Linked DNA regions of Homo sapiens. The protein of the gene in region 2 interacts with the protein of the main gene of each other region in a pairwise test. Each region holds a gene or a part of one and is shown on either strand. Other genes may lie near its edges.

Region 1 (3,500 bases), on a different chromosome or scaffold from region 2:
TGAGGTTTCTATCTGGAGTTTCAGGATGTGTTTATCCTTGTATTGCGAAAAAAAGCCCGTCTCTTGCCCAATCTGCTGTCTCGAAGAGATTCTATACTGGTCGTCTGGGTATTCAGCTTTCCTCTTTTTACAATTACACAGGAGACGATTTAAAATCACCAGACGGGGCGGGGTGGGGGAGACGGCCAGTCTATCGCGGGTGCCATTCGCACTTCCTTCGACCCAGAGACTCGGAGGCTTCCTCGACTGCCTCCCAAACGCCACGGGACGGGGCAGAGCAAGCCTGCAGCCCGGTAGAGCAGGAGCCGCAGCCCCAGGACTCCAAGGGCGCGCCCGAAATGGGGTCCCTCAAGCGACCAGTCAGTTCTCCCTCCAGGCACTGAAGCAGGGCGGGGACAGGTGGGGCGGGGTGGGGGACCGGGGTGCTGTTCTGGAGGGTTTGGTGTGCACGCTCTCCCTAGACGCCGGAAGAAAGGAATAGCAAATTTAACGATCAGCCTAATTGTTAGAGAAGGCACCAACTCCTGCCCCGACGGCTGTTCTCCAGGCTAAATGCGATTCTGTTGTGCTATACAATGGGTGAAGCTGTAGATAAAGCTGTCTCTCTCCGACACTCTCCAAAGCAGCCTGCGCGAGAGGGACCCCCACCCTCCGGGCCGGGCGGTAGTGGGCGCCCAGTATCCCTCCACTCGAACTGGGCTGGAAGGAGGCAGGCGGCCACGGGAAATAGAGCCTGTGGCGACTGCGCTGTCGGATCGCAGCGCCCTCCGGGTTATTAATGGGCCTGGAGGAGCCGCCGTGTCTGCGCCTCAGCGCGGATGGCCTGCCCCGAGAAGGTGGCCTCGGCGCCCGCCGGCGCGACCCAGCCTCCTTGGCCCAGCTTCCCTGAGGAGCCACGGCGACCCCGCGCAAGTGTCAGGCTTATGGCACTGAGCCTGACACCTGGCGAGTCCCGCCTGGCAGACACGGTGAAAGCTGGCCACTGATGGATGCGCCAGAGCGGGGCGGCGGGTGGCCCTCGGGGCACCCGGGTACCTGCCGCCGCCAGCCTTGGCCGCAGCCAGGCCTGTTGGATCACCCTGGATGTGCCCTATCTGCGCTGAAATGACCGAAATGCCCAAGAAACTTGTGAGTCTGTATGAAACGTTTGTGTCAGGAACAGCTAATCGCAACCCAGCATGGTAAGGGAGCCCTCGATTTGCCATTTGCTTCACAGCAAAGGAGGGCTGACTATGTAAGCCTCCTGTCTCACTGGAGGGGGCTCTAGCCAGCCAAACCTTTGCCTCAGTCAGCAGCTACTCCTCTACTCCTCCCAAGAGAGCTGGAAGAATGAGGGCTGCAAGCTTCTCAGAAATGTCCCCAGACCTCTGAAGTGAAAAGCAACAACTTGTTTCGGAAAGCAGAGAAGTGTCCATGCCGCTGGGCCTCCCTTGCACAAAGGCCCTCTTCTGTCCTTCCTCTGCCAGCAACACAAACTATTGTTAAAATTCTCCCAGACTCTGCTTTTGACCCCAGGGCCTGGATGGGAGTATTCTCACACTTATCCATATGTCAACTCCTCTGAAACACACACACTTCACACACCCTCTCAAGCTTATTGATTGTGAAAATAAAAACTTCAAGACATTTTGGGAATTACATGAAAGACAATAAACACAATTACAGTGCATACCATGTGTCAGACACCTGTCTAGAACCAAAAACCAGCATATTATCTAAGTATCATGATTCCCATTCTGCAGATAAAGCAATTCCCAAGCACTACTACTCCACCAAGAACCAGAAGCTAGAAAGTGGCAGAGAAAGGATTCACAGTCAAGGCTGCCTGACTGCAAGGCCTCTAAACCCAGAGATTTTTAAAAGACTAATGAAAGCTGGGGAAATTTAACATTCAAACTCATGACTCAATTGAATTGAAATATTTCACTGAAGTAACTTTGGGGGCCATGAAAATTGCTGTAGCATGATTGAGTTATAGAGGTTTCTCTCTTTCCCACACTCTTGTGTTTTCGGACATTAAAGTAAGAGATTGGATAGGAAAATACATAGATAATGTCTATAATTTTGAATGTTACTGTCTGACTTCAGAGACAGCCTTTCAGCACCTTTGCAAAAATAGCTAAAAGCAAATGACAATAAGCAAAGGCAATATGCCCATGGAAATAGAAATAAGTCACTCCAGGGAGTTACTTAACTGATTTTTTTTTCTGCTTGACTCAATGATGCAAATGGTCAGAAGAGTGTTTAGTTTTCATTCCCTAGCAGCCTGTGCCAGAGACAGTCAACTTCCAACATGCTTCTCCACACGTGTCATCCCATCAACGACATCAGCATAGGTACCAACTCCAGCCACTACCTCCATAGACAAAAAGCACACTTCTAATATTTGTAATGCATGATAATAAAACTGTGGCTAAGGCCTTTCTCCAAGAAGTCCTCTAAAGCCGTCTTCAACTTATTGTTTCATTTGTCTCCATAAAGAGTTGAAAAACTTAATAGTAGCATTATGCTACTATTAAAAGTGAAAAACTGAGGCTCTCCCAATATCTAGAAGACTATCTGTGTGTTAGGTCCACAGCAGGCTAGACAAAGTCAATCAACTTTAATTAGTCCACCCAACAGGGGTCTTCTTAATTTGTGAACCACTTCATGCTATATCAAAATATTCTGCCAGAAAAGTTGACCAACTGCCATCAAGATACATGTTATATTCCAATGTTATTTTTTAATACACAAAATCCCCCAGCTGAAACATTTGGGTTCTAACTTATGTCTGAGTCTCAGGGTAGCTTGAGGATATTAAAAACAAGTAACATTTCTTGGGATTGACAAATATGCTTAAGAAGACAAACATTCTAGCAGAGTATAAACACCTACATGAAAAGGTTTGAAAGAGAAGCAGGCTATATGAGAGGACCAAACTATGTATAAATGTATATAATATATGTCATTATATTATATATACACACACAGAGCATTCCAAGCCAAGCAATACATAATACAACTACTTAGGTTCCTAACAAGGAAGCAAGTAAATGTTCATACTTTCTCTTAAAATCAGGGGAAGAGTTTTTGTACAAGTTCATAATTGTTATTCATAAATACTCTTCTATCTTGAGTAAATCTGTCAATGCTCCTGTCTAAGCGTCTCTGAGTAAAGGAAGGTGCTGTCATTAGGTTACAGACTTGTTCGCCTCCTGGCATCAGAAGGCCAGGCCAAGTGCAGTTAAGAGCAGACTTTCACTCTTCATTTCCTATCCTTCTGTGTTGTTTCAATGTCTTTAAAGTGCAATAGATCTTTACAATATATCTATTTTAAGGTAAAGGCGGCAAAGCAGGCCATGGTTTTCTTTTCTGGAATTTCATTTCTCGTTCTAGGAAAGGTGAAATATAAAACGCTTCCGGGCTTTTGGTGTGTGGAGAGGCCAACAGTCATGTGTAGGCGCGTGGGGAGTGAGAGCTACATCACATCTTCACTCCCCAGTACCTGCCCGACGCCT
Region 2 (3,500 bases):
CATGCGGAGGTGCGGTTTTTCAGTGCTGGCACTGGGGATTCCTCCCTCTCCATCCTTCCTCCTTTCCTTCCTTCCTTACGTGTTCATTGAAACCTACTCTGTGCCAGCTATGCATGCAGAAGGCAGGGTCAGGCTGACACGGGGCCCTTCCCAGAGAGGCTTCAGCCTCACACACACTGCGCCACGGGTCTGCCTTGGGTACAAAAAGGGTGAGAGGTCAGTCTCCCTGGGGAAGGAGCACCTGGAGCTTATTCAAAGGTGGAGCAGGAAACCATGTTCTAAGAAGGACGCCAAAGGCCAGCAAGGTTCAGCTGCAGTGCTGACTGAGGGGGTGTGGCCACCGCAGGGGACATGTGTCCTGTTTTGCACCTGGACAGCCCCTCTTCAATACTTTCCTGTGGTATGTGGCTTCACTAAGGAGAAGCTAGAAAACCCCCTCTCCCAGCTCCCTTTGCACCTGTGCTGCAGGAGTGTGACCAGACGCCTCCAAGCCAAAGCGTGGATTTGGAAATGACGGTGAAGGTAGTGATGGTGGCATGTGGCACTGAGGGACAGCAGTGGTGGGGGCTCTGGTCAGTGGTGTGAGTGGTGATGTCTTGCCCAGCAGGGGTGCCGTGGGGCCTATACTGGCACCAACCCCTGCTGGAGTCTGGACTTCATTCCTGCTGCCCATCTTCCATCCCGACTCTCTGGCCCTCCTGGAGATCCTATGGGCTATCTCATACTCTTCCATAAACTCCTTTCTTGCTTAAAACAGTTCCAGTGGATTCTCATGTTTGCAGGTAAGAACCATGGCTGCATTTTCTGAAGCTCTGTCCTGGCCAGGAGTTGGAAGGAAGATGACTGCCTCAGGTGATCAGGCTTGGCTGGCAGTGGCAGTGCTGCCCACCCGAGAAGGGGTGGACAGATGAGGGCCTCAGGAGGGAGGGAGGGTGGCCTAGCACTTGGCTGTTGGGCAGGGGCAGATCCCACCTGGCAGCATGCTGTACATTGGGAGGGGGCTGTGAGATGGCCTGCAAGCCCCATTCAGCCTAGGAGGCCAGGAGTCTATAGAGTCCAACCTCATTTTGGTGGGGAACCAGGCCTAAGGTCACACCCAGAGCGCTGGAATGGAGCTGGCCAGGGGAGACCAAGCACTAGCAGGAAGTCCAGGGTGGGCAGGGAGCAGCTCCGGGGAGGCGAGAGGGGGCTCAGAGGGCAGATGAGTAGGGTAGGATGAGGGGTCGATAGAGGACACATGGCACCACCTGGTAACCCCAAACTCCAGCAGCTAGCACCAGACCTGACACACAGGTTCTCAAAACATATGTATGATGGAATAAATCAATGCATGAAACCGAGCACAGCCACTTTTTTGCCTTTGCAGACTCAGAGAACAGAAATCCCAGCCCTTCATCTCTCAGGCCAGAAACCCAGGCATCATCTGGGGATTCCTCCTACCCATTCTCCAATTCCAATCTCCATTCCTGTGGCATCTCTTGACCTGCCTGTTTCTCCCCATCCCCACTGCCCCTGTCTTGGTCCAGGCCACCATCATCTCTCTCCTGGACATTGTGGCCTCCTCCCAAGTTCTCTTCCAGCCTCCCATCCTGGCCTCCTCTGTCCATCTTCCACTCTATCTCTAAAGTGACTTTTCTAAAGCACTAATCTGACCATGTGAATGCTTTCATCCCTCAGTTCAAAACACTCCCCTGGGCTGGGTGCAGTGGCTCACACCTCCCAGCTCTTTGGGAGGCCAAGGTGGGCAGATCACTTGAGGTCAAGAGTTTGAGACCAGCCTGGCCAACATGGTGAAACACTGTCTCTACTAAAAATACAAAAATTAGCTGGGCATGGTGGCACGTGCTTGTCGTCTCAGCTCTTCCAGGGGCTGAGGCAGGAGAATCCCTTGAACCTGGGAGGCAAAGGTTGCAGTAAGCTGAGATTGAGCCACTGCATTCTAGCCTGGGCAATAGAGTGAGACCCTGTCTCAAAAACAAACAAACAAACATTCCTGTCTCCTATCTCATTACAGGACAAAGTCTGAACTCCATGGCACATAAGGCCTTCATGAACTAACTATGGCCTATGGATCCAGCTGTGTCTCTCAATCCCCCCACCCTTATACCCTCACCTCTCCTCAAGTCAGGCTGCACCCCAGCTGGTTCCCCAGCCTGTCAAGCTCTCACATGTACACAGTTCCTGTCTGTCCTCTCTGCGTCCTCTCTATATACAGTGTGCTCCTACTCATTGTCCAGCACCCAACCCTACCATCACCTCTTCCTAGAAGTCTTCCCAGACTGCATCCTTCTCCCAGCCAGAGAGTGTCAGACATTTCTTGGACATAATTTTGCTAGCTTCATATTTACAAAATTGTTTAAGCTGTATTGTAAATAACTGTTTCTGAGCAAGTCCCCCACCCAACTGTGAGCTCCTAATGTCCAGCAAGTGACCTGGCTCAGTACATATTGATGAATAAACGAATGAACACATAGAAGGTGGGAACGGTGAATGATTAAAATCATTAGCTGTGGCCCAAGAGAATTTGAAAAAAAAAGATGACAAAGCCCTGAAACCGTTTTCTGATGTGAGAATAGCATGCTTCTCCATGGAAGGATTCCTTTGTATTCCATAGCCTTAAAAACGACCATTATTTAAAAAGAGACAATTACATGTAACACTTTGTGCATCTTGCCTCTCTTAAAGCACAACACCCATTATGCCTAGGAAAACACTTCATCCAGAATTTGGCTCAAACAGCTGACAATGAGACACAGGCTGAACCGACTGAGGCCACATAAAGACACAAGAGTGGAAATCCCCAGCTGGAGACTGGCTTGGCGGGTTTTGTGTTGACTGGCTTATTTGTCTGTCTTATTTTCCAGCCAGAGCCCATACTAATCTGTGGTTAGAGTTGGTGCCACTTTTAGTTGTACCCTGCCTTGTCCCACAGCCTTTAAAGTGTCTTGTGAAGGTCCTCTAATAAGGCAAGATTTTTCTTTATAGCGAGAAAAATGAAGCTAAGAGAAAATTAGACACAAAGTGTTTGCCATGAAGCCTTAGTCTGGTTAGTCAAAGCAGATTTGGCTCTGAACTTCCCAAGGCAAAGAAGGAAACAGGAGGAGCTCTATTAGTGGAAAAGCAATTCTAGTGCAGAAGTGACTGCACAGGGATATTGACACCAGACAACAGTTTCTTCCACGGTTCCCTAAAGACAGGAACACCATCGGCCGGGTGCGGTGGCTCACGCCTGTAATCCCAGCACTTTGAGGGGCCGAGGGGGGCGGATCACGAGGTCAGGAGATGGAGACCATCCTGGCTAACATGGTGAAACCCCATCTCTACTAAAAAATACAAAAAATTAGCTGGGCGTGGTGGGGGGCGCCTGTAGTCCCAGCTACTCGGGAGGCTGAGGCAGGAGAATGGTGGGAGGTGGAGCTTGCTGTAAGCCGAGATCACACCACTGCACTCCAGCCTGGGCGACAGAGCAAGACTCCGTCTCAAAAAAAAAGAAAAAAGTA
Region 3 (3,009 bases), on a different chromosome or scaffold from region 2:
CCATGGATTTTCATTAGTTCCTGTATGGCCTGTATTTAATAGAAATAAATCTGTAAATAAAAAATGAAATACACAACATCCCTCTTTTGCCCTACAACCCCTTTCTACTTATACTTCCTTTCCTATCAGGCCACAAACCTCATCATTCTCTCTCTTGCCAATCTTCTTAGCTTTCTTGACCTTATTCCACATCAGTGAGCAAAACCTAAATTCTCGATTAGTGTATTGACCTTTTTAGACCTATATCTTAACTATTGAGAACTTCAGGAAAAAAAATAAAAAGATTACGGATTGCTGCTTCTACATAGGAATGTTCTCCAACCTCAAACAGGCCCTCAGCATGGCCTCACAATTATTCTGTTTGATCTGCTCCTCTCATTTTCCATGAATGTTATTCCTGCCTTCACTATTCTCTTAAGATCCCCAATCTACTGTCTCCCTTCCTACCCTACACTTTGCTTTCTACGTAATACAAGAAATGGAGGTAGACCTCCCAAAACTCTTCCTTTTCATAAACTTTAACAAAAAAATGAAGAAACTGCTGTCATCCAGTAGGAATACAAAATACTTCAGGTGAGCATTATTCACTGGAAATGTGAAGTTTCAAATTCTTGGTGAACAGTCAACTTTGTTCCCGATGCCTACTCTGTTACCACTAATAATCAGAGTATCCATAAAGGAATCCCTTTGAAGTAGATAAGAATCTGAGTACATGCTCTGTTAATATAGTAATAGATGGTATGATCTAGAGTGAATCATCCAGACCCAGCTTTATCATTAGGATAGTGATGTCCAAACGCTCTGTGAACAGCCCAGGATTATAGGGCTCAGCATTGGACACTTTTTACCTTATCCCATATAACCAAGCCTAAATAAGCTTTGACAAAATGCCTATATGAAATATTTTTAAAGTAGTTTTAAAACAATTTAATATTCTAAGAGTAGAAAATACTGTAAAGAAATCTTTATGAAAAAGAGCAGTGTTTAATTTCAAATACATTTATTTTCTTAAGACTGGATTTTTACCTAATAGGTTTGTCTAAAGTAGGGGCATTCCTATGATGGGTTGGTATTTATTTTCTCAGATGAGCCGCTGATATAAGCCCATATAGCATTCAGTTTTTTTAATTTTTATTTTTAGAGATAGGGTCTTACTCTGTCATTCAGGCCGTAGTGCAGTGGCAAATCATGGATCACTGCAGCCTTGACCTCCCGGACTCTAGTGATCTTCCCACCTTAGCCTCTCAAGTAGCTGGGACTGCAGGCATGTGCCACCACACCCAGCTAATTTTTAATTTTTTTGTAGAGATGGAGTCTCCCTATGTTGCCCAGGCTGGTTTCCCAACTCCTGGGCTCAAGCAACCCTCCTTCCCTGGCCTCCCAACGTGCTGGGATTAGAAGCATGAGCGACCACGCCTGGCCTAAAAATTATTTTCATGGTTTATTTCAACATAGCAAATAAAAGTATCTACAACTGGCTGGGCACAGCCTCCCCAGTAACCGGGACCACAGGCATGTGACCACTACACCCAGCTAATTTTTTAAATTTTTTGTAGAAGTTGGGGTTTCCCTGTGTTGCCCAGGCTGGTCTCAAACTCCTGTGCTCAAGTGAACCTCCTGCCTCAGCTTCCCTAAGTGCTAGGATTACAGGTGTGAGCCACCATGCCTGGGGTATGATTTTTTAATTTTTTTTTTTCTTTTTGAGACTCAGTCTCGCTCTGTTACCCAGGCTGCAGTGCAGTGGCGCAATCTCGGCTCACTGCAAGCTCTGCCTCCTGGGTTCATGCCATTCTCCTGCCTCAGCCTCCCGAGTAGCTGGGACTATAGGCGCCCGCCACCACGCCCGGCTGATTTTTTTGCATTTTTAGTAGAGATGGGTTTCACCATGTTAGTGAGGATGGTTTTGATCTCCTGACCTTGCGATCCGCCCACCCTGGCCTCCCAAAGTGCTGGGATTACAGGCATGAGCCACCGCAACCCGGCCGATTTTTAAATTTAATAAAAGCATTTACATAACAGATTTCAGAAAGAAATCAAGTTTTTAGTTTTCTTTCCTACTTAAAAAAATTGAGTGAAAGCTGATTTGACTAGATGTAAAATAAAAATATGTAAATATACGTCAGGGGCTGTACTACCATTGGAAATACAAATATGTGATAAATTCTATACTTGTGATGAAAAACTTGTAAGATGCTAAGCAGTTCAGAAAAGGTAGCTCCTTTCCACAGAAATTTTTATAGACTTTGGTAGTTGTAGTTTTTTTTTTTTTTTTTTTTTTGAGACCGAGTGTTGCTTTGCTGCCCAAGCTAGAATGCAGTGACGCGATTTCAGCTCACTGCAACCTCCGCCTCCTGGGTTCAAGTGATTCTCCTGCCTCAGCCTCCCAAGTAGCTGGGATTACAGGCATGTGGACCCAGTTATTGGGGAGGCTGAGTGGGAAGACTGCCTGAGCCCAGGAGTTGGAGGTTGCGGCGAGCTATGATCATGCCACTGCAGCCTGGGCGACAGAGCCAGACCCTTTCTCAAAAAAAGAAAAAAATAAATAAAAATCACGAGTTAGGTAAAATGGTTACTAAATATTTAATTTAAACCAAATGATATATCTTTAATTTGCTCTTCTTTTTCTAATTTCCTAAAGTAGATGCTGATTTTAGATCTTTAACATTTTCCAGTATATGCATTCAATACTATAAATTTCCCTCTAGCCACTGCTTTTGCTGCATCTCACAATTTTTTTTTTTTTTTTTTTTTTGAGACGGAGTCTCGCTCTGTCGCCCAGGCTGGAGTGCAGTGGCACGATCTCGGCTCACTGCAAACTCTGCCTCCCGGGTTCACGCCATTCTCCTGCCTCAGCCTCCCAAATAGCTGGTACTACAGGCACCCACCACCACACCTGGCTAATTTTTTGTATTTTTAGTAGAGACGGGGTTTCACCATGTTAGCCAGGATGGTCTCTATCTCCTGACCTTGTGATCCACCTGCCTCGGCCTCCCAAAGTGCTGGGATTAC
Region 4 (3,500 bases), on a different chromosome or scaffold from region 2:
TACTGAATGCAATGGACCATTCCAACCTAAGTTATCTTGATATGCTGGGATTACAATAGAGTGGACAGTTGCGATAAAGATTTATACTCATTAATTACCACAAGCCTAGAAGAATAAAGATTTAGGCGGGATACCAAGTTTGAAACAGGTGGGTTGACATTTTTATAAGTATTGTAGGCCATATTTGTTACAGACAACACTTAGCGCAAACCTGTGTGTCTGCCATGCTCTTCTTTCACTTGTCTTATGAATGTATTACATTTCATTGTTTCGGGTGGCTAGGAGAGAAAATCAAGATTGCATTACATTGATTTTAATATTGCATAAAATGAAAACCAGTCTTTTGCTGTGCATAACTAAATGATATGCCTACAGTAAAAATCATGCCCTGGCTGGGCGCGGTGTCTCACGCCTGTAATCTCAGCACTTTGGGAGGGCAAGATGGGCAGATCACAAGGTCAGGAGTTCGAGACCAGCCTGGACAACAGGGTGAAACCTTGTTGCTACTAAAAATACAAAAATTAGCCAGGCGTGGTGGTGCATGCCTGTAATCCCAGCTACTCAGGAGGCTGGGGCAGGAGAATCACTTGAATCCAGGAGGCAGAGGTTGCAGTGAGCTTAGATCACACCATTGCACTCCATCCTGGGTGACAGAGAGAGACTCTGTCTCAAAAAAAAAAAAAAACAAAAAAACCCCATATTCATATTTAGATGTAAACATCAAATATATTTTTGTTTTGTATTATAAAACATTAAGAGGTGTTTGACAAGCACCCCTTGTATAAACAGGAGGAGGTGAAGGTTGCTGGCGCATATGAATTTAGCTTATATGTGCTGATGTGTAAAAACTCAAATCCCCAAAATATTTTCATACATTTTATACATAATCCAGAAATTTATAAGAGCTACAGATTTGGTCAGGTGTGGGTCATGCAGCTGGGAAATACTTGGCTCCATAAGGATGTTTGACTGCACCCTCTGCCCGTTTTAACTGTAAGCACCTGTGGGGTCAGATGCTCTCACTAGTTTGGTGCCAGGGAATTTATAGGAGCTCGGAGAATGTCACCTCCTGAAGGTTATGTGCTTGGAACTTCCAGCTTCATTTTCATGCTCATCTCATCATGATTCTATCATCTAGGAATTATCTAAGAGCTTCCCGACTATGGGATTCTTCCTAAAAAGGCAACCTCAGGAGCAGCCTTAGCTGAGAACACAAATGAAGAATGTTCTTCAAAGGCTCTCTGTTTGGACGATTTGGAAAGTACCTTTCACCTGACATTCAGACTGGTTTAAATAAGGACTCTGTATGAAGAAATGCAAAGCTATAAAAACTAAGTCAAATTACCTGTACATGATTGCCTGAGAGGGGTTTCTTCCTTCCTCTTTTTCTTTTCACTCCTGAAAATTTAGCTAAAAATATAAACCATTTAAAAATTGGAATCCATAAAGGAAAAGATTACTGTTTGACTACATGAAATATACAACTCATATGCCAAAAGTTTTTACAAAGTCAAAAGATATGGCAAACTTCAACTAAGTGTTTGCAGCACTTATGATAAAGGGTTAATTTTTAAAAAAGATATTATAAGTTTAATGCAAAACAGGTAAATAATTGAGTAGAAAAATTGGCACATGGGGAACTCTCTGGGGAGAGGGTTCATTGAATAGAAAAATGAACAAATTGGGTCATAGGAAAACAAATATAATTGGTGAAAAGATATGGGAATGCACTCAATTTCACTCAGAAGATATTCAAAGTAAAACAGACTAATAAGGATGAAGATATTTAATAGATGACATTTGCAAGGATTTGGTTAAGTGTGTATTGCTGGTGCTTTTCCCTGTCAATAAACACTGATTTAAAGAAGTATCTGTAATAGCCTTTCCTGCTGAGTTAAAAGGGTAACGACTGAAAAATGATTGTAGAGGTGCTATTTGGAGAATGTTATCACCATAAAATGCAGTTGGCATGACGCAGAACGAAGTCTTCCAACGAGGTCCTGACTCCACTTCACAATGAACATTGCAGATGTAGTGCTGCTAAGACACTGCTGTTCCACTCATGAATGAAAGTATACCCCATGACTCCAGTTAGCCAGGATCCAGTCTGCCTTAATTAGAACTGAAATGCTAACCATGCATCCTTAGGGAATTTTCACTCAGGGAAGGTGCAGCACTTTTAAAATTTTATCTACTGAAAATTCTTATGGAAGAGAAGCAGTCCCAAAAGTCAAGGCTTTTTCCCATGTCTTAGTTTGGTTCTGTGAGCGTAGGGAGAATGAAAGATACCAGGGAATGGTTCAAAGAGAATAGGTCTTGTTCATAAAGAAGAAAAAATTAGTCAGTCATATCACATAGTACACAAAGAAGTTGTCAATTTTCTAGATGTGTAAAATTTTAACTCAAACATTTGTATTTTAATTCAACGAGGCTAGAAAATTAGACTATTCCTTATGTTACATAAATGTTTACCTTTCTTTAAAACCCACAGTGCTAAATTTTAGAAACTTACCACTTTGAGCGATGATCGGGAATTGAGCATGTTGCTGGCAAAGCAGTCTGAAATATTTAATTTCAAAGAATTGTAAAATATTTTTATTTACAGGTTTCAAATATTATGTCTATTTTTGTGATTAAAAACGTACCAACCTACTTTTCATGACGGCGTCACACTAAAGTTTTTTTTTTTGAAGCCCTGTGTAAAATTAGTGACCCACACTGAGTGCAGATGGAGACTCAGTTAGATGTCTTTTATGCCCTCAGGGACTTAGGAAGATGATTATGTTCTTTCAAGGAATGAGTACTGATGAAGTATTATGAACAATACTAGTTCATATACAGTGGTCAGTGAGATTTTACTGTATAAAGATACCTAAAGATCCACAATCTAAGACATGCAGATTTCCATCTGACTGTACAAGATTCTGCTGGTTTTCAACAATAAATAGCACAAAATTGCAAGCATTAATTTAAGGAAAAAGTCATTTTCGATGAAAACAGGTATTTGCCCCAGATCTTAGATTTGACCTACAAAGGGCCTAGAACTGATTAGTATCTTCCAAGAGAAAGCAGCAGCATAGCAGGCTATGATGAAGAAATGAAGTGAGGCCGGGCACGGTGGCTCATGCCTGTAATCCCAGCATTTTGGGAGGCCGAGGCGGGCAGATCACGAGGTCAAGAGATGGAGACCCTCCTGGCCAACATGGTGAAACCCCGCCTCTACTAAAAATACAAAAATTAGCTGGGCATGGTGGCACGTGCCTGTAGACCCAGCTACTCAGGAGGCTGAGGCAGGAGAATCGCTTGAACCCAGGAGGCTGGAAGTTGCAGTGAGCTGAGATCGCACCATTGCAGTCCAGCCTGGGCCACAGAGCAAGACTCTGTCTTAAAACAAAACAAAACAAAAGAAATGAAGTGAATCGTTTTATAGAGCTGCTCAGGCCACTTTCTAACCTTTCCTCCTCCTCGGCACCCAGCTTCATCTCCCTTCCTCTTCAGAT

Evidence for each region. Proteins that work in one complex are often made in the same cells at the same time.
Region 1: the proteins of TRIM14 (region 2) and PRDM6 interact in binary tests that used the Homo sapiens proteins (3 or more experiments, as listed by UniProt).
Region 3: the proteins of TRIM14 (region 2) and PPP2R3C interact in a two-hybrid assay, tested with the Homo sapiens proteins (one large-scale study listed by BioGRID).
Region 4: the proteins of TRIM14 (region 2) and PHF11 interact in a two-hybrid assay, tested with the Homo sapiens proteins (one large-scale study listed by BioGRID).

Annotation. Positions count from the first base shown.
Region 1 is NC_000005.10:123,095,741-123,099,240, reverse strand, and holds part of PRDM6 (putative histone-lysine N-methyltransferase PRDM6), read right to left. Parts: intron 15-3,500; exon of another isoform or gene 1-14. UniProt on the Homo sapiens protein: Putative histone methyltransferase that acts as a transcriptional repressor of smooth muscle gene expression.
Region 2 is NC_000009.12:98,095,223-98,098,722, forward strand, and holds part of TRIM14 (tripartite motif-containing protein 14), read right to left. Parts: intron 1-3,500.
Region 3 is NC_000014.9:35,087,982-35,090,990, forward strand, and holds part of PPP2R3C (serine/threonine-protein phosphatase 2A regulatory subunit B'' subunit gamma), read right to left. Parts: intron 30-3,009; coding exon 1-29. UniProt on the Homo sapiens protein: May regulate MCM3AP phosphorylation through phosphatase recruitment. May act as a negative regulator of ABCB1 expression and function through the dephosphorylation of ABCB1 by TFPI2/PPP2R3C complex.
Region 4 is NC_000013.11:49,519,953-49,523,452, reverse strand, and holds part of PHF11 (PHD finger protein 11), read right to left. Parts: intron 2,560-3,500; coding exon 2,513-2,559; intron 1,411-2,512; coding exon 1,346-1,410; intron 279-1,345; coding exon 212-278; intron 1-211. Other genes in the region: SETDB2-PHF11 protein, read right to left, coding at 212-278, 1,346-1,410, 2,513-2,559. UniProt on the Homo sapiens protein: Positive regulator of Th1-type cytokine gene expression.